3 separate regions of the Homo sapiens genome follow, and regions 1 and 3 are each linked to region 2. Evidence: fine-mapped expression QTL. A gene starts in region 2. Each other region holds a variant in brackets. All regions are shown on one strand. Distances are between the middles of the regions.

Evidence for each region. PIP is the estimated chance that this variant, and not a neighbour inherited with it, causes the effect.
Region 1: its variant is the best candidate, but not a certain one, in a credible set for the expression of NFYC in whole blood (INTERVAL, PIP 0.63).
Region 3: its variant is the best candidate, but not a certain one, in a credible set for the expression of NFYC in whole blood (TOPMed, PIP 0.81).

The regions. Positions count from the first base shown.
Region 1 is chr1:40,480,440-40,488,624 of GRCh38, reverse strand. It overlaps ZFP69 (ZFP69 zinc finger protein), which reads right to left. Exons shown (of 6, transcript NM_001320179.2): 3 at 6,771-6,862. Among named protein-coding and RNA genes, the nearest start is that of ZFP69, 7.2 kb to the right of the region's middle. The variant C/T (reference allele first, on the strand shown) is at 3,902.
Region 2 is chr1:40,686,872-40,695,056 of GRCh38, reverse strand. NFYC (nuclear transcription factor Y subunit gamma) reads right to left here and starts at 3,353. Exons shown (of 10, transcript NM_014223.5): 1 at 3,190-3,353. It overlaps NFYC-AS1 (NFYC antisense RNA 1), which reads left to right and starts at 2,796. Exons shown (of 1, transcript NR_024567.1): 1 at 2,796-5,977. It also overlaps a transcript of RIMS3 not described here. RefSeq lists enhancers at 2,366-2,415, 2,436-2,605 and a silencer at 2,846-2,945.
Region 3 is chr1:40,722,283-40,730,467 of GRCh38, reverse strand. All of the region lies in intron 1 of NFYC (nuclear transcription factor Y subunit gamma), which reads right to left. Among named protein-coding and RNA genes, the nearest start is that of MIR30E, 28 kb to the left of the region's middle. The variant A/C (reference allele first, on the strand shown) is at 3,256.

The sequences.
Region 1 (8,185 bases), 210 kb after region 2:
GAGGAACAGGAAAGTGAACAGCATGGCTGGAGGTAGGCTGGTTGATGAGAGAGTGGAAAGAAATGAAATCAAGAGAGGTGGAGATGAGGAACAGGGTGGGATAGGGGTTCCCCCACCACCTCACGCACTTATTGTCACAAAGACCTGTGCATTCTTACTGAACTTGAATTCTGAGGCCCTGCTGGAGTTTAATGCAAAAATGAACAAAACTGTCTGGAACTGTAGTCTAATCCCTTCCTAAGCTCAAATGCCAAAAAGATAAAAAGAAAAGCCCTCAGCAATTGTGGCATGGGCTAATCAGAAGTATACTCAATCAAATTAAAGCTGCATGATAGCCAGAGCTCAGCCACAGCTCTAGGAGGAGCCCCTCACCTTAACCACCAGAGAGACGAAAGGGTTTGGAAATAGAACAAATCAAAACACATGAATAAACTATGTGTGTGTGTGTGTGTGTATACATACAAAACACACACATGTATGTATGTATATACACATGCACTCCTGCCTTGGCCCCTCAAAGTGTTCGCATTACAGGCATGAGACACCGTGCCCGGCTTAGAGATCACTTTTTTTTTTTTTTTTTTGAGACAGAGTCTCACCCTGTTGTCCAGGCTGGAGTGCAGTGGTGCGAGCTCAGCTCACTGCCACCTCCCGGGTTCAAGTGATTCTCCTGCCTCAGCCTCCCAGGTAGCTGGTATTACAGGCGCACGCCACCACGCCCAGCTAATTTTTGTATTTTTAGTAGAGACCGGGTTTCACCATGTTGGTCAGACTGGTCTCGAACTCCTGGCCTCAGGTGATTCGCCCACCTCAGCCTCCTGAAGTGCTGGGATTACAGGCGTGAGCCACCGCGCCCGGCCTGAGAGATCACTTTTTACTGTGATATGCAATTTACCGGAGAGATGAAGTGCTAATGCAGAGATGCTTAGCATCACACTGAATTTTAAGTAAATACTTGAAACACCTGAGCGCACTACAATAGCCACAGGAGATAGCTATAAAATTATCATACTAATACACTAGGTGTACTATAGTTTATTTTATGCAGTAGTGATTTAATACTGCATCTTTACATTTGTTTACATTTCTCTCAACTGAGAATGGCACCATGAATAGTCTGTGCACATAAGCTTTGAAAATTTTTAACTTTTTATAATAGATACGTGTATCTCTTATGGTAGTAAATGATAAAATAGACTAGTACCTACATATATTTTATGTATTCATAACATACCTAACTTTTTCTTAATTTTTTTGATACTCCTAGGCTACATGGTCCATCTGCAAGTTTTTTCAAATTGTCACAAATCTCCAAAAAATGTTTCAATATATTTATTGAAAAAAGTCTATATAGAAGTGGACCTGCACAGTTCAAACCTGCGCTGCTCAAGAATCAACTGTAGGCCGGGCGCAGTGGCTCATGCCTGTAATCCCAGCACTTTGGGAGGCTGATGCGGGCGGATCATGAGGTCAAGATATCAAGACCATCCTGGCCAACATGGTGAAACCCTGTCTCTACTAAAAATACAAAAATTAGCTGGGCATGGTGGTGCATGCCTGTAGTCCCAGCTACTCGGAAGGCTGAGGCAGAAGAATCACTTGAACCCGGGAGGCGGAGGTTGCAGTGAGCCGAGATCTCGCCACTGCACTCCAGCCTGGTGACAGAGCAAGACTCCATCTTAAAAAAAAAAAAAAAAAATCAACTGTAAATGAAAATTCTACAAGTGAAAAAGACAATATCTAAAAATTCATTGGATGGGCTTAAAGTAGATTAGACCATGATGAGATAAGATCAGTGAAACTTAAGATGGGTCAATAAATATTATTCAAACTAGAGTACCAAGAGAAAAAAATCTGTGGGATAATATCAAGTGGTCTATTATACATGTAATTAGAATCTCAGGGCTAGGTGGGATGGCTCCTGCCTGTAATCCTAGCACTTTGGAAGGCCAAGGCAGGAGGACTGCTTGAGCTCAAGAGTTTGAGACCAGCCTAGGCAACATAGGAAGACCCTGTCTCTACAAAAAAAAATACAAAAATTAGCCAGGCATGGTGGCGCACACTTGTAGCCCCAGCTGCTCAGGAGGCTGAGGCAGGAGGATCACTTAAGCCTGAGAGGTAGTGGTGGGAGGGAGGGAGGGAGGGAGGAAGAAAGGAGGGAGGGAGGGATGGAGGGAGGGAGGAAGGGAAGGAAGGAAGGAAGGGAGGGAGGGAGGAAAGGAGGGAGGAAGGGAGGAAGGGAAGCAGGGAGGGAGAAAGAGCAATCTCAGAAGAGGGAATAGGTAGAAAAAATATTTGAAAAATAATGGCTGAAGATTTTCCAAACTAATAGGAAAAAAAATCAACCCACAGATCCAAGAAGCTCAGCAAACCCCAAAAAGGATAAACTCAAAAATCACAGCAAGGCACAGTGGCTCATGCCTGTAATCCCAGCACTTTGGGAGGCTATGGTGGCAGATCACTTGAGGTCAGGAGTTTGAGACCAGCCTGGCCAACATGGTGAAACCCCATCTCTACTAAAAATACACAAAATAAAAAATAAAATAAAATAAAATAAGGCGGGTGTGGTAGTTTACATCTGTTATCCTAGCTACTTGAGAGGCTGATGTGAGAGGATTGCTTGAACCCAGGAGGTGGAGGTTGCAGTGGGCCAAGATCATGCCACTGCACTCCTGCCTGGGTGACAGAGCAAGACTCCGTCTCAAAAAACAACAACAACAACAACAAATCACACCTATGCACATCAGATAAAAGTTGATATAAAACAGATACATCACATAAAAAGAATAACACCTGCCTTCTCATCACAGATAATACAATCTAAAAGATAATGGAACATTTTTAAACTACTTAAAGAAAAAGCAGTCAACCTAGAATTCTTTATCCAATAAGATCCTCAAATAGGAAGATAATATAAAGAAATGTTTAGATCAATAAAAGTGAGAATTTGTCACCAGAACACCCACATTATAAGAAATGCTAAACAAAGTTCTTTAAGCTGAAGGGAAATGATGCAAGATAGAAACCTGGAATGAAAGGGAAAAAGGAAGAGTGCCTAAATGGATAAATATGAGGGCAAATAAGAAAGACATGTTTTTTTCCATTTTCATAATTTGTTATAAGACAGTTTACTATTAAAAGCAAAATTAAGAACAATATACTGTGGTGTTTTTACATGTAAAACAAAATGTATATTGACAACACACTAAGAGTGGGAAGGAGTATATGAAAATATAACGTAAGTCTTTCATATGATATGTGAAGCCATAAAACATTAATTCAAAGTAACTGTGGAATGTTACTTTTGTAACATGTGTAATGTTAAATACATTTGTAACATTCCACAGTTACTTTGAATTAATATTATATGGCCTCACATATAATATGATTGTTTTTAGTGGTTGTTAGGGCAACCACTAAAAATAAAGAACTGGCCAGACTCAGTGGTTCACGCCTGTAATCCCAGCACTTTGGGAGGCCAAGGTGGGTGGATCACCTGAGGTCAGGATTTCGAGACCAGCCCGGCCACCATGGCAAAACCCAGTCTCTACTAAAAATACAAAAATTAGCCAGGCATGGTGGTGGGAGCCTGTAATCCCAGCTACTCGAGAGGCTGAGGCAGGAGAATCGCTTGAACCTGGAAGGCAGAGGTTGCAGTGAGCCGAGATCATGCCACTGCACTCCAGCCTGGGCAACAAGAGTGAAACTCCATATCAAAAAAAAAAAAAAAAAAAAAAAAAAGCAGGCCAGGCGCAGTGGCTCATGCCTGTAATCTCAGCCCTTTGGGAGGGAGAGGCGGGCGGATCACGAGGTCAGGAGATCAAGACCATCCTGGCTAACACAGTAAAACCTCGTCTCTGCTAAAAATACAAAAAAAAAATTAGCCGGGTGTGGTGGCACG[C/T]GCCTGTAGTCCCAGCTACTCAGGAGGCTAAGGCAGAATTGCTTGAACCCAGGACGTAGAGGTTGCAATGAGCCAAGATTGCACCACTGCACTCCAGCCTGGGCAACAGAGCAAGACTCTGTCTCAATTAAAAAAAAAAAATCAAAGAACTGTAGCTTAAAAGTCATTAGAGGACATCAAATGGAATACTGGAAAAATGATTCAATGCAAAAGAAGGCAGAAAAAGGCTGGGCACGGTGGCTCACACCTGTAATCCCAGCACTTTCGGAGGCTGAGGTGGGCAGGTAACTTGAGGTTAAGAGCTTGAGACCAGCCTAGCCAACATGGTGAAACCCCATCTCTACTAAAAATACAAAATTAGCCAGGTGTGGTGGCAGGCACCTGTAATCTCAGCTACTCGGGAGGCTGAGGCTGGAGAATCGCTTGAACCCAGGAGGTGGAGGTTGTAGTGAGCTGAGATCGCACCACTGCAGTCCAGCCTGGGTGACAGAGGGAGACTCTGTCTTTAAAAAACAAAACCAAACAAAAAGAAGGCAGGAAAAGAGAAACAAATAAACAAAGGCTAGATAGGACAAATAGCAAACAAAAGTATACACTTAGACCCAACCATACTGATTGTTTTATTTATTTTATTTATTTATTTTTTTTGAGACGGAGTTTTGCTCTTGTTGCCCAGGCTAGAGTGCAATGGCGCAATCTCGGCTCATGCAACCTCCGCCTCCCGGGTTCAAGTGATTCTCCTGCCTCAGCCGCCAGAGTAGCTGGGATTACAGGCACACACCACCACGTCCAGCTAATATTGTATTTGTAGTAGAGACGGGGTTTCTCGATGTTGGACAGGCTGGTCTTGAACTCCTGACCTCAGGTGATCTTTCTGCCTCTGGCTCCCAAAGTGCTGGGACCACAGGCATGAGCCACCATGCCCGGCCACTTAAGCTTTTTACAATCTCAGTGTCCTCAAATAAGAAGGTCAAATGCTAATATCTGCCATCTAGGATTGGAATATATTGCAGCTTTATTTCTAGTAATATGGAAGAAGTAACGATAATAGTCTGAAGAGTTATCGCTACATTCTACTTATCTGGAATTTTTCACTTCCTACATTTATCATAAACTGATGGGTTTAAAGGATTAAATTTTTTTAAACTGAAGTACAATTTACATACAGGAAAATACACTAAGAAAGTGTACAGTTTGGGCTGGGTGCAGTGGCTCGTCTGTAATCCCAGCACTTTGGGAGGCCGAGGCAGAAGGATTGTTTGAGCTGAAGAGTTTGAGACCAGTTGGACAACATAGTAAGACCCTATTTTTTCTGTCATTTTTTTAATTGGCAAAGTATGGTGGCATGTTCCTGTAGTCCTAGCTACTTGGGAGGCTTAGGCAGGAGAACTGCTTGAGCCCAAGAGTTTGAGGTTGCAATGAGTTATGATTGTACCACTGCACTGCAGCCTGAGCTACAAAGTGAGACTCAGTCTCTAAAAAAAAAAAAAAAAAAAATTAAAAAAGGTGTATGGTTTGATTTTGACATATGTAACATAATGTAATCAAGATAGAGAACATTTCCACCATCTCAGAACGTTCCTTCATGCCCCTTTTTAAACGGTATTCCACTCCACCCCCAGTTGATCCACCAGTTTATTCCACCCCACCCGCAGATCTCATTTAAAAATGAGATCTCTATTTTTAAAAAGAATATATGTTCTGTAGTTGTTAGACGTAGTGTTCCGTAAGTGTTAATTAGGTTAAATTGGTTGATAGTGTTGTTCAAATCTTCTGTATCCTTGATGAGTTTTTGTCTACTGGTTACATCAATTACTGAGAAAGAAGTGTTAAAGTTTCTAATTACTGTGATTTTGTCTATATCTCTCTTTAGTTCTGTCAATTTTGCTTTATTTTGAAGTTCTGTCATCACATGTATAAACACTTAGAATTGTTGACCCTCTTATTATTATGAAATGTCCCTTTTTGCCTAGGAATACTCCTTTTCCAGAAGTCCACTTTGCGTGATATAATATATGCCTCCAATGTTCTTTTAATTATTGTTTGTACGGTATAGCTTTTTTCATCTTTTTACTTTAAACTTGAAACTGTCTCAAAAAAAAACAAAAGCTAAAGTAATTGCCCCAGATCACTGAGCAACTAGACAAATGTTATACCATCTAATTTCAGCACTCCAGTTCATTTCACTTCAAACCCTTCTGTCCTCCAATAAGATCTCCTCTTTTAAGTCTTTCTTTCACATTTATTCTACAATTTTCCTTCCATTTCATCTCTGTTTCCGATAGGCAGTACTGACTATCCCATTTGTGACATGCTGTTGTAGCTGCTCTCAGTGGCTACTCTAGCTTTTCTGGCCAGCCCGTCTGATGTGTGCACTGTGTGGCCTATTTCTTTTCTACTCACTTCTCCTTTGGTTCTGGTTTGACCTCTGTTTTCAATATTACACTAAGGGTCACCTCTCAAAGTTCACAGTAATTCATGTACATCACTAAGAAAGAACCTTCTTACACATTTTGATTTTGAGTATTTCATTGAGATTTCTCTTAGATCTCATGTGGTATCGGTTGGTTTTTAGGGGCTAGAATTATATCTCTCATTTCACTTTCTTTATAGAAAGTAGCATCATACTAGATTCAGATGTTGGTGAGAAACAAGAGTGACATGGAGGGAGACCCCTATAAGTAGGGGAATTGCCACCACTGGAGCCCAATTTTCTGTAAAAGGACAACTTGCATTGAGCTCCTTAGGTTGAATTTGTTAGTCTTAATACCCTACCTCACCACCACTCCCACCTCTGCAAAAAAGACAGGTTATATACCCTAAAAACAGGAGAAGCAATGTCAAGAAAATGAGATGAATCCCTACTCACCTGGGATTCTGCTGTCGGGAGTCCAGGGGTCACTTCATCCTCTAAACTTTCTCTCTGGGTCTTTACGTCCTCAGCATCCTGAGACAGCAGAGCTGGGGAAGGAAAAGAGCCATGAGCTTTGCATCTCCCCAAATCTCCCAAATAAAGAAATTGCCTGCAGACCCACTCAATGTGGCTCCTCCCCCAAAAAGGTTCACAAAGAGGGACACTGAGAGTGACTCAAGAGCAGCCTGAAGCCTCCTTAGTGAGGAGGACCTGCTGCAAGTCGCTTTGGGCATTAATGTTTCCCAGTGATCAAAAACTATGTATGAGAGAACAAAGTATTTAAATGGAGAATCCTTTAAATCCCACTCCCCCCTCCAAAAAACTCTACCAATGGTCAATACTGGTCCAAAAGCACAGCTCTAACAGGCCACTCCTTTGTTCAAAAATCCTCAAAGGTTCCCCACTGACAAGAAGGAAAAATCCAAACACTTCACCATGGACTTCAAGGCACTCTACAATCTGCCCAAAGCATATTTTCTCAACAATGGGTACTGCTACTTTATACCTGGGACACACCCACCCACCCACCACATTATTAGTCTTTCAGACTAAAGATTCTCAGTCAGACTAAAGATGCCCCATTTTCTTCAAGGCACCCACTTTTGTATCCTTTCCCCAAATCTACACAAAAAACCTAAGACATTCTTCAAGGCCCAAATCAATGCTACCTGCTCTGTGAAAATTTCTTAAATACATACAACCAGGCCGGGCGCAGTGGCTCATGCCTGTAATCTCAGAACTTTGGGAGGCCGAGGCAGGTGGATCACGAGGTCAGGAGTTCGAGACCAGCCTGGCCATTATGGTGAAACCCCAGCTCTACTAAAAATATAAAAACTGTAACAACGTAAAAGCTAATTAAGGTCACAAACTTCGATGAAACCCTTGAAGTCCAAATCTTCTTGATATTGTGAATTGTACTCCTTCCAGTTTAGTTTCTTCTGGACTTTCCTTAACTGACTACCTTTTAATTTTAATTTAAATTTGCACACATTATGATTAAAATTGGGCCTCTACTGTGATGATTCCTATTTCCTCTCATGTTTGAAAGTACAAACTAACATTCAAATAAACATTAGCATCAAGTAGTGCAGACATTTGTATGCATTTCCTTGATTCAATTTGTTGTGACCTTACCAGTTTTGAAGTGGAATTGCACCATTTTGTAGATAAAGGAAACTAAGTATATTGCTGCACTTTTAAGTTTTCAAAACAGTGTTTGAAAATTGCATGGTTTTTTTTTTTTAACTCAGTTTAAAAAGACTAAAATGTTCTTTCAAAAGAGGCATCTAACTGTGTTCCTAATTCTGTATATGGGCTTAGGTTTTGTAACCAATAAAAAAAAAACTGCTATCAAATATGTAAAAAGCAAT
Region 2 (8,185 bases):
CTGGTCTCAAACTCCTGACTTCAAATACCACCTGCCTCAGCCTCCCAAAACGCTGGGATTAGAGGCGTGAGCCACTGCGCCCAGTCTCTAGTAGTTCTGACCAAAGAAAAAAATGTGTAAGTATAAATGAGATAACAGATTTGTCATAAGAATTAAATAAGATGCCATGAACACAGCCTATAAAGTATAAATCTTAGTATGATTTCTGCCTGAAGAAAAAGCTGAGGTTCACAAGTTTTCAACATAAACTCAGATCTACTGAGATTTCCTGAGAGTTCAAGATTTCTAGAGTGGTCAATTCCAGATCTTAACAAGGTGGCCATGGGTATAAGGGGCTAACATGGAATGAAGGTGGTCACCAATGTTGAAGGGCAGGTTGCTCCAGAAATGCCTGCTGAAAAAAAAAAGGTGTACATATACACTCATTTTTATCACCTTGTCTAGTCTTACTAAAAACGAAACTAAGTTATAGATCTACAGCATTCTTCATATTTGGTTAACTTGATGACTGAGCCAAATGAGGCTGAAATGACCAATGTACAAAATACATGGCAAACCCTATTTTCACTTGTAGCTTTGCCTCTATCTTCCACAGTGAAACGTTATTGTAAACAAAAATGAGGGAGGGCTTCACCTAAGCACATCAAGACATAAAGCAATTAAGATTTCCAACTCACTGGTCTCCTCTCAAACCCTGATTTAAAGGTTTCCATGCAAAATTGGAACTGCAAATATTTTGTCCTATCCAGTCTTAATTTTACACATTGTTCAGGATAAGCATATCCTAGAATCAATATCCCACAGTCTGAAGAAAGCACTAGGCCTTTGAATAGGTCCTGGTATTTGGGGACACCCTAAGGAACTGGTGATGCTTGAAAAACCTCTCCAGTGAGCTCTTTACACTAGGCACTTGGTAGTTCCTCGCCATTTGGCATAAATTACCTCCACATACAGAAAGACTATCTGCAATATTCTGAAGCTTGGTTTTAAGGAATGCAGATTCTTCAAGTTTCTGTACATATTTTTCCCCATTATCTACCTGGATTCAGGAAAAAATGCAGCAATTTACTTGGTAAATCTTCCCTTTCACAATAGAAGCCAAGGGATATGATTTGAATACCTAGCTGAAGAACCCATATTCTCTATGGTTACAATTCTGTGGTCTGAATCCTTAAGCAGCACAAGAAATTCTTAAGAATTATAGTCTTCCATTTTATACACTCTAAACACCCAGAAATCAAAGTAGATGATCCACTTGGAAATACAAAATTATCTGGAAGTTTCATTAGTCAGGTTTATGTTGATAGCTGATGTAGCAGATAAAATTACAGGCTTTGGCATCAGGCAACCAGGGTTTGAATTCTAGCTCAACCACTTACTGAGTGACACCAGACAAGCTACTTAAACTCTCTGATCCTCAGTTTCCTCATCTGCAATATGGGGACGATAATGCCTACCTATTGGAGTTAAAATATGCCCCAAAATAGCAATTCTCTTCCTCTGCTACTTATCAATTCCCTTCTCCAGAAAATGTAGTTGCATTCACATAAAACTAAATTTGAAAACCCTAGGAGTTTCTTGAAATTGGTATGAAAACAGAAGAGTACCATCTAAAGCTAAAAAGGACTACCTAACAAAAACAAGGAAAAACAAATTAGGAAAACACAGATGTTTAACATAAATGTGTTTCCATGGCCCTCACACACTGGGACGAGCAAATGTAAAGCAATACAAGTAACTACGATTCAGATTCAGTGGAAAAGAACATATTCCCAACAAGTTGACTGGAACGACTCTGGATTGGAATAAAAACTTTTTGAATATGAACCAGAAAGTGTTGACAAGTCCTGTTCCTTAAGAAGCTATGCATGGGCTTTTTTTTGGTTTGGAGCTGCTTATTTGAAAAAACAAACAAAAAATTCAAAGTACACATGGGAATGGGTATACTTTTTAGGCACATATACAAGGAAATAAACCAAGACCGAAAATTTCTGGCTAGCTCCCTTTCCCTTAAAGGGGAACCTAACAATATTTACTCAACAAATAACTACCAACTACCTAATATTTGCTAATGTGGCTTTGGAAACTCAGCCATGACCTGTATCCTTCCTAGAGCAGCAAATTTCATATACAACATCTCAAAACTACTTGTATGGTCCTGAGACTCAATAATGTATAACTGTTCTATTAATACACTTCCCAAGTCCGAAAATGTCCCCTAAAATGCTTCCTATATCAGATTTTGTCACTTTAAATCTGATACTACTTAATGCTGTGCTTCCTAGGCTCGGACAGAGCACACTTCTCAATAGCATTCCTCTCTCGGTTTACTTGCTCCTCACATCACATCCCAGGTCCGTTGACTCTGGACTCCAGGGCTCCACCAAAACCTCAGTGTTTGAATGCTTGCACTCTCCAGCAAAATCCCTGATCCGATTCTACCGTTCAGCTATGCCCCTAGCCCTGATGCCTTTCTTCCTACACCATACACTCACACCGTGGACTTCAGGGCCACTTCCAAACTGGGTCACATTAGCAACCCTGGATCTCGAAGACTCTCAGCCTGTCACTTGGGTTTCGGTGTTTCCAAGCCTGGAACCCTGAGGGCCTGCACACCCCAATCTTGGGCCATGCATGTACCAGGAAAAGCACCTCTGAAAGTGAGTGTCCCCCATTCCCAGGCCATGGCCTAAGCTACCCCCAAAGTACCTGCCAGGCCATCACCCTCTCTTCCCCCTTAAAGCCTCTAGGCTCGCCCTCTCGCCGCAACCCCACGCCTGCGCCGCAGGGGGTCATTGCCCCAGCCGCCCTAGCCCAAGACGCGCGCATCCCCGCAGCCTCAGATTCCTTCATCACCCCCTAGACCGGAGCTGGCGCGTCCAATAAGGTGCCAGGTCCGCGGCCTCCCCGCCACCGACCAATCACGAGCGAGCCCCCCCGCCGTCGCCTTCCGCCAATGGGAGAAAGCCCGCGGGCCGGGCCGACGAGGCACACGGACCCCACGAGCGCGGCGGCGGCGACAGCAGCGGGCCAGGCAAGAGCACAACATGGCGGCGGGCAGGACGGACCGAGCTACAGCAGCGGCCGCGCGAGGAAGTGAGGTCTCTGGCGAAGGCGGGAAGCGCTGCCCCTCCCCCCGCCGCCGCTTCCCTATCACCCTCGCACAGAAACTCCCGCACACTCACACACCTCTGCTCAGGAGTCCAGGAAGAGCAGGAGCCGCCCCCGCGCTCCTACGGAGTCGGGCAATGCAGAGGCCCAGGCGCGGCGGAGGGGAGGGGGAAGTGTGCGTCACGGAGAACGGAGCGCGCGCGAAGCGGGGGCACAAGCAAGATGGCGGCCACGCCGTTTGCACCGTTTCCCCTTTTCCCTTCCCCCTCCCTTGGCGCCTGGACTCCCAGTATCGTGCGGTGCGCAGAAGCTGTGCTCCTTGAGGTCTCGCGAGAATTGGGAAGGGGCGACGACAGAGGGAGGCGGAATGAGATCTGAGAGTTTTAACCCCGCCCCCTTTCGGGAGCTCGAGATCTGAGTTTTGACCCCGCCCCCTTTCGGGGGATCCGGAGGCGCTGCCCAGTGACCTCCACCACCCTGCCTATCCTTGTGGATCTCCTTGGTGCGAGCTTGAATTTTAGGAAATAAGTAGGTGTGTGCGCGTGCCCTTGAGTTTTAGGAACTAAGTAGGGGCGTGTGTGTGTATTTGTGTTTTTAATTTGGGGAGAAAGAACTGGGGGATGAAGGTCGACATGGCGTTCCAGATTAAGCATGCCGTTCAAGTAGACAGCTACTGGCACCTTAAATTCATAAAAGAGCATTTAGCACCAAACTGTAAAGTGATGTCCTCTAGAATAAAGAACAGTACTTACCAAGAATAGTTAGCTTGTAACCTTACGTCGACATAGTTGTTCTTATTTGAATGCAGATTTTAAAGTTTTATCACGCAGTTGGAAACCACAGCTACTATGAGCATGGATTTTTTCATACTTATCTCTTTCATTTCCGTGACCACTTGGTCCAAAGGCATCAGGATTGTATCCATTTTACAAATGATAAAACTGAAGCTCAAAAAGGTTAAGTAACTTGATCTAAGTCCCCACAGCTAGTAAGTGTCAAAACCCCATCCGAATAACTTCAAAACCTGTAGGTATAGTCATCAAATGTGTCTTGAATGGAATTACCTACAGTGAGAGTTAGTGCATTAGGTAACAAGCGCAGAGAGGAATGACTGCCTCTGCTGATGGTAACCTTGAATTTTACAAATGACACTGGAGCCTTTCTGAGACTAGTGTTGCATGGGTCCTCAATAAAATCACACTGTTGTTACTCACTTCCTTTGGGTTTATAACCCTGGTGATAAAGTAATTGAGAATAGTGGAGTAAACCCTCGACTTGAATTCAGGAAAATTGTTTTCAAATCCAGTTTCAATAAATCTCACATCAGGCACTCTATTTGATGAATGAATGAACAAAACCTAACTATAAGACACTTGACTTCAGGGAGTCTCAATTCCTTCATCTGTAAAAAGATCTAATTCCTAACTTTTGGTAATGTTGGGGAGAGTGAATGAAATAATGTGAGAGTGCTTCGTAAATTGCAAAAGTGTTATAAAGAAGTTACTGGTAAGAGCTACGAGTGTCTCGCTGCACTCTAGCATGGGCGACAGTGCGAGGCCCTGTCTCAGAAAAAAAAAAAGTTACTTATAATGACATTTTCAGACATGAGAAATGGCATAAAATTAAAAACAGATTCAAGAGAATAGTATGTTGAGATTGTAGAGACAGATGTAGCTAATGGAAAAAAGCTAAATAAGTCTCTCTACAGATGTTTATTGAGTACTTATTGCATATACTATGCTTGCCAAAAAATGTAAAAGTGTACATTTAGTTACAATGAAGCAGCACAAGTTATTATTAGTGATTATTGTTATAATTAAGTATTGATCACACTTAGGGGCTGCAGTCTATTTCCTTCCAAGAGCCTGGAAGTTGGGTTGCCCTCAGAAATAAATAAAAATCTACATAGAGGAAATTAGCTAAGAGTGATATTAAGTATATTTAACAACAAGTAGTGCTCAAGCATAGATGAAGCAGAATTAGAAATGCAGCTAGGATCCTGGAGGTATACGTCTGTGCTAGGTGTTAACCCTTCAGTTGCTGGTTTGTGAATAGGAGGTCCCAAGGGATCCCAGGGGAAGGGAGTGGTCAGGAGGTTTGGGACAGCAGCTATTTACCAGGTAGTACTAGAGTATTTCAGTATTTTAATAGTCAATGTTATAACTGATAACAGTCAATTGATACATATAAGCCTAATATTAGTCCTTGCTATAGTCTTTATTATCAATAGCCTCCGCCCTTCCCTTTCTAAAGCCGTTGCTATCTGGCCTGTCCCTAGGAGATTAGGGTGAAAGACTTCTCACCCTAATGTCGTCAAGCTTGGCCTTGTTTTGACCAATGAAATATGAGTAGAAATGGCATGAACCGGCCGGGCACGGTGGCTCACACCTGTAATCCCAGCACTTTGGGAGGCCGAGGTGGGTGGATGACGAGGTCAGGAGTTCAAGACCAGCCTGGCCAAGATGGTGAAGCCCTGTCTCTACTAAAAATAAAAAAATTAGCCAGGTGTGGTGGCAGGCACCTGCAATCCCAGCTACTCGGGAGGCTGAGGCAGGAGAATTGCTTTAACCAGGGAGTTGGAGGTTGCAGTGAGCAAATATCACGCCACTGCACTCCAGCCTGGGCGACAGAGTGAGACTCTGTCTCAAAAAAAGAAAGAAAGAAATGGCATGAACCACTTCTGAGCAGAAATTTATGAGCTATCTTACAATTTTGCCATATTATCTTTCCTCTGACACAAGAGCAGCATGTCCTAAATAGAGCTCCCTCTTCAGCTTTGGTCCCAGAATGAAGATGTGCAGAGCGACAGCTGACACACATAACCTGTAATGTTGTGTGAACAATAAATAAACCTTTGTTGTAAGCCACTGAGATTGTTTTCGTTGTTACTGCAGCATAACATGCTAGCTAAGCAGACTAATACAACCATGAAATTAGCTATCCATGGGGGTAAGCCAAGACCTTTTTTACAAACATGACCAAACAAAACAAAACAAACTCTGATAAAGGGCATATGGGAGGAACCTGAAGAAGGTAGATATTGTAATTTAATAAATGGAACCTAATCAATCTCGTCAGCCATTCTGTACCCTGTTTGGAGAGAGATTCTGTGAACAAAAGGGCTTGCTCAGCCATGGCAGCCCAAAACAAGGCAGTCACAAAGGCTAGCACTACCATTGCCCCTCTAAGCCTCATCTCAATTAAGCCACACTGAGCATTAGGATTTCCTTGCCCGTGTCATCTCTGTAGTGGATGGGAATATCTCAGACTGCCTCAGCTAAGAAATACTTCTTAAGATCAACATGCTTTCCTCTATGTTCACCCAGCAAGTGTCTTGGCGATAGGGACAGAATTAAGTGATCTGCCACCTAGAGTATTCTAGTTCTTTTGATCATTGTATTTTTCATTGTAACTAATCAGTTAGATTCCTCTTTATATAAAAGTTTCTGTGAGCTTGGCAAATACAAGACACCCCCTACCCCCAGGAAATGGTTCAACTTTCTGCTTACTATTAAAATTAGGTTTCTGAGTTTGCAAGGTTAAACATCAGTTCTTGTATCATGGTAAATTCCTTAAGGTTATAGCACTGTATAACAGAACCTGTCTAGACAGCCAGCTGGACTTCCTTAAGCCACACCTCTCTATCTCATTGTGTACCTTTGGCCTAAAAGAAAAGCAGCGCTGGCCAGGCGTGGTGGCTCACACCTGTAATTCCAGCACTTTGGGAGGCTGAGGCGGGCAGATCACGAGGTCAGGAGTTCGAGACCAGCCTGATCAACATGGTAAAACCCCGTCTCTACTGAAAATACAAAAATTAGCCGGGCATGGTGGCACACGCCTGTAATCCCAGCTACTCAGGAGGCTGAGGCAGGAGAATCACTTGAACCTGGGAGGCAGAGGTTGCAATGAGCCGAGATCGCACCATTGCACTCTAGCCTAGGTGACAGAGCGAGACTCTGTCTCAAAAAATAGAAAAGCGGCACTAAAAGATATAGTTCATGTGCTGCTGGAGTTCAAAAAGGGAAAGCTTACTTCCACTTAGTATGAAATAGTGGGAGGAGTTCAGGAAAGATTTGCAAGGATGTGACATTTGAACTGGGTCTTGAAAAATGAGTAAAATTAGGGAAGACATGTAGGCAGCCACTAAAGCAAATAGAAGAAGCGAGGGATCAGTTGAGGAAACACAGAGTAAGAGGGAATGGAAGAAGAATCATGGAAAGATACATTATTATGGTTAAATTAAGGCTCTTGGGCTTTATTTTCTGATACGGGAAGTGAGTGGTAGAAGTTTTTTGTTTTGCTTTTAAACAGGTTTAACCATTTTTTTTTTTTTTTTTTTTTAGGAGATGGAGTTTTGCTCTTGTTGCCGGGGCTGCAGTGCAATGGTGCAATCTCGGTTCACTGCGACCTCCGCCTCTCGGGTTCAAGCGATTCTCCTTTCTCAGCCTACCGAGTAGCTGGGATTACAGGCGCGTGCCACCAGGCCCGGCTAATTTTTGTGTTTTTAGTAGAGACGGGGTTTCATTATGTTGATCAGGCTGGTCTGGAACTCCTGACCTCAGGTGATCCACCTGCCTTGGCCTCCCAAAGTGCTGGGATTACAGACGTGAGCCACCGCCCCTGGCCTAAATTTAACCATCTTTAAGTATACATTTCAGTGACATTAAGCCTGTTCACGTTGTGCATCCATCAGCAGAATTTGTCATTATCCCATACTGAAATTCTGTATACGTTAAACGCTTACGCCCTATTCTCTTTTCCCCAGCCTCTGGTAACCACCATTCTACTTTCACCTTTTGGCCACTGTGAATGATGCTTCTGTGGACATTAGTATACAAATATCTGTTGGAGTCCCTGCTTTCAATTATTGGGGGTATATACCCAGAAGTGAAATTGCTGGATTATATGGCAATTCTTATGTTTAATTTTTTTTTTTTTTTGAGGAGCCACCATACTGTTTTCCATAGCATCATACCATTTTACATTCCCAATGGTAGAAGGTTTTACAGAAGATAGTGACATGATCAAAACTATGATTAAAAGCAATCTGGAAAAGAGAGTAAGATGGAGTAGA
Region 3 (8,185 bases), 35 kb before region 2:
TCCCACCTCGGGCCTCCCTATTACCTGAGACACAGCAATACTGAAATTACGCCACTTAATAACCCTACAACGGCCTCTAAGCGTTCAAGTAAAAGAACAGTCTCACATCTTTCACTTAAAAGCTAAAGGCCAGGTGTGGTGGCTCACGCCTGTAATCCCAGAACTTTGAGGCACCAAGGAGGGCTGACTGCATGAATCCAGGAGTTCGAGACCAGCTTGGCAACACAGAGAGACACCCCCTATCTCTACCAAAAAAAAAAAAAAAAAAAAAAGAAAAGAAAGAAAAATTAGCCAGTCCTGCTGATGGCATGCACCTGTGGTCCTAGCTACTCAGAAGGCTGAGGTGGGAGGATCACTTGGGCAGCAGTGAGCTATGATCATGCCACCACACTCCAGCCTGGGTGACAGAACAAAACTCTGTCTCTAACTCAATCAATCGAAAGCTAGAAATGATTAAGCTTAGTGAGGAAAGCACATCAAAAGCTGATATGGGGCTGGGCGCGGTGGCTCATGCCTGTAATCCCAGCACTTTGGGAGGCCGAGGCGGGTGGATCACCTGAGGTCAGGAGTTCAAGACCACCCTGACCAACATGATGAAACCCCTTCTCTACCAAAAATACAAAAATTAGCCAGGCATGGTAGTGGGCGCCTGTAATCCCAGCTACTTGGGAAGCTGAGGCAGAAGAATCTCTTGAACCCAGGAGGCGAAGGTTGCAGTCAGCTGAGATCGTACCATTGCACTCCAGCCTGGGCGACAGTGCAAGACTCCGGTTCAAAAAAAAAAAAAAGAGCTGAGATGGACCAAGAGCTAGGCCTCTTGCACCAAACACTTACCCAAGCTGTGACTGCAAAGAAAAAGTTCTTGAAGGAAATTAAAAGTGCTCCTCCAGTGAACACACAAATAAGAAAGCAAACAGCTTTATTGCTGATATGAAGAAAGTTTCAGTGGTCTAGACAGAAGATCAAACCAACCACAACATTCCTTTAAGCCAAAGCCTAATGTGGAGCAATGCCCTAACTCTCAATTCTATGAAGGCTGAGAGAGGTGAGGGGGCTGCAGAAGAAAAGTTGGTTCATGAGGTTTAAGCAAAGAAGCCATCTCCATAACATAAAAGTATAAGGTGAAGTAGCAAGTGCTAATGTAGAAGCTGCAGCAAGTTTTATCCCGAAGATCTAGCTAGAGTAATTGATGCAACTGGCTACATTAAACAACAGAATTTCAGTGCAGACAAAATGGACTTTTACTGGAAGAAGATGCCATCAAGGACTTTCATAGCTACAAAGAAGTCAATGCCTGTGGAAGCCGATGCTCATTTACCATTCCAAAAATTCTAGGGCCCTTAAGAATTATACAAAATCTACTCTGCCTGTGCTCTATAAATGGAGCAAAGCTTGGATGACAGCACATCTGTTTACAGCGTGGTTGACTATTTAAGCTCACTGTTGAGACCTACTGCTCAGAAAAAAAAGATTCCTTTGAAAATATTACTGCTCACTAACAATATACCTGGTCATCCAAAAACTGATGGAGGCTGGGAGCAGTGGCTCACGCCTGTAATCCCAACACTTTGGGAGGCCAAGGCGGGCGGATAACCTGAGGTCAGGAGTTCGAGACCAGCCTGGCCAACATAGTGAAACCCAGTCTCCATTAAAAATACAAAAATTAGCTCGGCGTGGTGGCGGGCACCTGTAATCCCAGCTACTCAAGAGGCTGAGGCAGGAGAATCGCTTAAACCCAGGAGGCAGAGGTTGCAGTGAGCCAAGATTGCACCACTGCACTCCAGCCTGGGTAGCACAGCGAGACTCCGTCTCAAAAAACAAAACAAAAAACATTAATCTGCTTGCACAACTCCATCAGAGTTTTGTTTTGTTTTGTGACAGTCTCACTCTGTCGCCCAGGCTGGAGTGCAGTGGTGCCATCTCAGGTCACTGCAACCTCCGCCTTCTGGGTTCAAGCGATTCTCATGCCCAGCCTCCCGAGTAGCTGGGATGGCAGGCATGCGCCACCACGCCCAGCTAATTTTTGTAATTTTAGTAAAGACAGGGTTTCGCCACGTTGGCCAGACTGGTCTCAAACTCTTGATTTCAAGTAATCCGCCCGCCTCAGCCTCCCAAAGTGTTGGGATTACAGGTGTAAACCATCGCGCCCAGCCGAGATTAGTATTTTAACACCTGCTAACACAATATCCATTCTGCAGCCCATGGACCAAAGAGTAATTTCAACATTCAAGTCTTATTATTGAAGAAAATACATGGCCGGGCACAGTGGCTCATGCCTATAATCCCAGCACTTTGGGAGGCCAAGGCAGAAGGATCACCTGAGGTCAGGAGTTCGAGACCATCCTGGCCAACATAATGAAACCCCATCTCTACTAAAAACACAAAAATTAGCAGGGCTTGTTGGTGCACGCCTGTAGTCCCAGCTACTCTAGAGGCCAAAGCATGAGGCTGCAGTGATCCGAGATCACACCACTGCACTCCAGCCTAGGTGACAGAGTGAGACTCTGTCTCAGAAATAAAAACACTTCATAAGGACACAGCTGCCATAGACAGGGATTCCTCAGACAGATCTGAGTAAACTGAAAACCTTCTAGACAGGATTCACCATTTTAAATACCATTAAGAATATTCATGGCAGGCTGGGCGCGGTGACTCATGCCTGTAATCCTAGCACTTTGGGAGGCCGAGGCGGGCGAATCACAAGGTCATGAGTTTGAGACCAGCCGGGCCAACATGGTGAAACCCTGTCTCTACTAAAAAAATACAAAAATTAGCCGGGCATGGTGGTGTGGGCCTGAAATCCCAGCTACTTGGAAAGCTGAGGCAGGAGAATCACTTGAATCTGGGAGGCGGAGGTTGCAGTGAGCCGAAATCGTGCCACTGCACTCCAGCCTGGGCGACAGAGCAAGACTTTGTCTCAAAAAAAAAAAAAAAAGAATATTCATGGCCAGGCACAGTGCCTCAGGCCTGTAATTCCAGCAGTTTGGGAGGCCAAGGCGGGAGGACTGCTTTAGCTCAGGACTTCAAAACCAGCCTGGGCAACATGGCAAAACCTGTCTCTACAAAAAATACAAAAATTAGCTGGTTGTGGTGGCACATGCTTATTGTCCCAACTACTTAGGAGGCTGAGGTGGGAGGATCACTTGAGCCTGGGAGATCAGGGCTGCAGTGAGCCAAGATCTTGCTACTGCACTCCAGTCTGGGCAACAGAGTAAGACCCTGTCTCAAAAACCAACCAACCAACCAACCAACCAA[A/C]CAAACAAACAAAAAAAGCCATTCAAAATTCATGGGAGGAAGTCAAAATATAAACATTAACAGGAGTCTGAAGTTGATTCCAATCCTCCTGGATGATTTTGAGGGGTTTGAGACTTCAGTGGAAGAAGTAACTGTAGATGTGGTAGAAATAGCAAGAGAACTGTAATTAGAAGCGGAGCCTGAGATGTGACTGGATTGCTGCAATCTCATGATAAAACTTTAACAGATGAGGAGTTGCTTCTTATGGAAGGCAAAGAAAGTCGTTCCTTGAAATGGAACCTACTCCCAGTGAAAATGCTATGAACATTAGAATATTATATAAACTTAGTTCATAAAATAGTGGCAGGATTTGAGAGGACAAACTCCAGTTTTGAAAGAAGCTCTACTCTGGGTAAAATGCTATCAAACAGAAAAGCAGCTACAGAGAAATCTTTCATGAAAGGAAGAGTCAACTGAAGCAACAAACTTCACTGCTGCCTTATTTTAAGAAATTGCCAGCCAGGCACAGTGGCTCACGCCAGTAATCCCAGCACTTTGGGAGGCTAGGGCAAGAGGATCACTTCAGCCCAGGAGTTTGAGACATCAAGATCAGTCTGGGCAACACAGGAGACCCTGTCTATACAAAAAATACAAAAATCAGCTGGGTGTGGTGGCACGTGTCTGTAGTCCCAGCTACTTGGGAGGCTGAAGTAGGAGGATGGCTTGAACCTGGAAGGCAGAGGTTGCAATCAGCCAAGATCATGACACTGTACTCCAGCCTGGGTGACAGTGTGGAGAGAGGAAAAAAAAAAAACAGGCCAGATGCGGTGGCTCACGCCTGTAATCCCAGCACTTTGGGAGACTGAGGTGGGTGGATCACCTGAGGTCAGGAGTTCGAAACCAGCCTGGCCAACATGGTGAAACCCCGTCTCTACTAAAAATACAAAAATTAGCTGGGCATGGTGGTGCGGGCCTGCAATCCCAGCTACTTGGGAAGCTGGGGCAGCAGAATCGCTTGAGCCCAGGAGGCAGAGGTTGCAGTGAGCTGAGATGGCGCCACTGCACTCCAGCCTGAGCAACAGGAGCGAAACTCCATCTCAAAAAAAAACACACACACACACACACAAACACATACACAGAAATTGCCAAAGCCACCCCAAACTTCAGCAACTACCACCCGAATCAGTCAGCAGCCATCATCATCAAGTCAAGACCCTCAAGCAGCAAAAGGTTATGACTTGCTGCAAGTTCAGATGATAATTTGCATTTTTACCAATAAGGTATTTTAAAATTAAAATAAGCACATTTTTTAGACATTATGCTGTTGCACACTTAATAGGCTACACTATAATATAAACATAACTTCTATTTGCACTGGGAAACCAACAAATTTGTGTGACTCTCTTTATTATAATGTTAGCTTTATTGTATTTTGCCCTAGTGGCAGCACTATCACAAGCATTTTATGTACCAGTACTGCTCAGGTATTTACTGAGGTTAGTTCTAGGTTTCTTCATTTAAATGAGCTAAGGTTTGTAAGATGTTATATTTTAAATGATGATGGGAGATACAGAGAAAGGAAGAATATTAATAAAAATAAATGGATGGATGAGGGAAAGGGGGGTAGGATTTATTTACTAACAGACTATTTGGTTTTTATGTTTACACAGATGGACCTTAGGACTTATGCTATTATCGATCACAACAGCTAAAAAGCATTTCTTAAGAAGGCTTATACTCTCCAAAATAAAACCAATCTAAAATTGACAATTTCACAAGAAGAAAAACAGCACTGGTCTGGAAATTAAAAGACCTACGTCTGTGTACTGGACGCTTGCTGCCTACTAGCTGGTGGCCCTGGGCCAGTCACTCTACTAAGCCACTCCAGCAATGATGTATACTGAACACATTCCAAAGGGGTCTCTGGTGGTTTGGTGGGGAAGTCCTACACTTCACTACTTGAAGATGCAATAAATGAATGAATACAAGGGAAGGCAAAGTGACTAGAGAGAAGAGAAGGTTCAATAGTCTCTATTTAAACTCATCTAAGGTTTTTATATAGTCATGCAGGAAACTAAGTTCAGGCACTACGTTTAGTGCCTGAAACCTTATTACTTACATTCTAAACCCTTACATAGCTGGGTACCAGCTGGTCATATTTACTGGCAGGCTACTGAATAGTCTTCACTACTATAATACAAGAATGAATAACATAGCTCTACTTCCCCAACTCTGATTAATGCCAAGTTTGACGTTTGAAGGTATATCTGTGTTAAGAGGAAGCCGCTTTTCAAAGTGCCTACTGGAAAACCATGCTTCCTAAAAGACTTAGGCTTAGAAGTGGCTGCACACTGCTCTCCTTAAAGATCTGTACACAAGGACACATTTTCAAACTGGCAGAAGAGCCACTTTTCCTTCAAAAACAAAAATACTTTTCTATTTGGTATCTAGTACAATATAATCTTTGAAACAGGGGCCAGATCATAATATAGTTGTAGCACAACTAGAGAAAAATGAAGGCACAGCAACTGGTATAAACAATGAAAGTGACGGGAAGGCATGAACAGAACATTTGAAAACTTTTTTCTGTGGAATAGAAAACGATATGTAACATCTTACTTCACACACATTCTTACTCATCCTTTCAATGCTCAAACTTAAACCATCTCTGCATATATAACAGCAATAAAACACTATCAGTATTTTGTATGATGAAGAAAAAGGATCAAGTATTTAGTGAAGTATTCTAAAGCAAGGGTCTAAAAACTACAGCTCATAGGCCACATCTGGCCTACAGCCTGTTTTTAGAAACAGTTTCACTGGAAGACATCAACCCTAATTATTTATTTATTTATTCATTTACTTTTAGACGGAGCCTCAGTCTGTCATCCAGGCTGGAGTACAATGGCACGATCTCGGCTCACTGCAACCTCCACCTCCCGGGTTCAAGCGATTCTCCCACCTCAGCCTCCCAAGCAGCTGGGATTATAGGCACCCGCCATCACACCCAGCTAATTTTTGTATTTTTGAAGAGACGGGTTTCACCATGTTGACCAGGTTGGTCTTGAACTCCTGACCTTAAGTGATCTGCCCACCTCGGCCTCCCAAAACGCTGGGATTACAGGCGTGAGCCACCATGTCCAGCCCCTAATTAGTTTATATTGTCTGTTCATGCTAAACAGTAGAGTTGAAGAGTTACAACAAAAATCATACAGCCACAAAGCCTAAAATATCTGGCCCTTTAAGGAAAAAGGTTCAGCCAGGCATGGTAGCTCATGCCTCTAATCCTAGCACTCTGGGAGGCCAAGGCGGGAGGATCACTTGAACCCAAGAGCTCGAGATCAGCCTGGGCAACATAGTGAGACCCCCATCTCAATAGAAAATAAAAAATAAAAAACTAGCCAGGTGTAGTGGCCCACACCTGTAGTCCCAGCTACTCACGAGGCTGAGGCGGGAGGACTGCTTGAGCCTGGGTGGTCAAGCCTGCAGTGAGCCATGATTGCGCCACTGCACTCCAGCCTGAGCAGGAACAGCAGAGCAAGATCCTGTCTCAAAAAAAAAAGAAAAGAAAAGAAAAAGTTTCAGATAATATTCTGATCTTGTTTTAAAGCACTGTTAGGTGTTTTATTTATCCCTGATTTACTGATGGGGAAACTGACACTAGAAGTTGAGAAGCTGGTCCTAGATCACACAACTGTTACTTAGCTCCCCTGCCTCCCTCACCTGTTCATCCTCAATTAGAAGTAAGCTGGGCCAGACCCCCTCTGCCCCACAGAAGTATCTGTTAGTCTCTCTGACCCTCCAGCCTAACGAGTAAATAAATCCTTGTAGGAAGAATGGTGAGTAACTGGTTTTTCAGGCCTCAATCCCGAAAAGGAATTGTGACATGAGCTAGAGACAGAAAGAGTGCCTGTAGCCTAAGTTAAGTTGTATTCTAAAACAAAGCATCATTTTCTTACCGGGTGCCTTCTGAGATTCACAAACAGCCTCTTGCCCAGTTTCTGGCAGTATCCTGTGTTTGTGTGTCTAGCAGAGGGAAGAAGTGTGATTCTGAAGAATGTTTCATAGATGCCAACTTACGGGCTTCAGAGTTCATAAAATACATGCCACATACATCATCCTCAATTGACCCTTACTTAGCTCAGTGATAAATTTACCAATATTATTCCAATTTTACAGATAAGGTTGAGGGTTGAATATCAAATTACTTGCTCAAGATCACAATACAATAAATGATGAGTCAAAATGCAAAAGCTCTAAAATTCTGTCTTGATTTATTATAACTTGCTCTTTCCCACTTTTTGCACTGTTTAAGCTGTCACTCTTTTTTCTTTTCTGTTTTATCCTTCCCCTTTGCATGTCTCTAGGCAGGTTAGCAGCACCTATGAATACTCAGCTGCGAACAGTTGGGGGCACTAAAGCACGAGGTAAATACATAAATAAATAAAATGTATTGGACCTGGGGGTTCTTAGCTCTCTGGCGAACTGTGATCTTGAGCAAATCTCTTAACTTCTTAGAAACTTCTCTATTCATCTAAAGCAACATCCCACAGAGCAGCTGAAACACACAAATGGTAAAACACATGTTAGAAGGCCTCAAAAAATAGCAAGCTTCATACAAATGCCAGATGGCATCATATCATCATGGCTGCCTGAAGCTAGACAAGACACCAACTACTGGTCTGAAGAGTCCCAGATACAGTACCGAGCCTAAAGACCAACTAGCTTCTTTTTCTCTATAATTTAGACTTACTTTGCTTTTGACATATTTCTTTAAAAAGCCTAGTTTCAGATGCATGGAAATACATATTAAAATAGAGAAAGATGTTCTCCTATCTCTTTTATAAACATGAAATAATTTTTAAGCCCTTTAAACTATTAAATTTGGAACAAATGTACTAGTTCCAAAAAAGCAAAGAATTCAAGCTGAACATGGGAACGTTCCAAATTT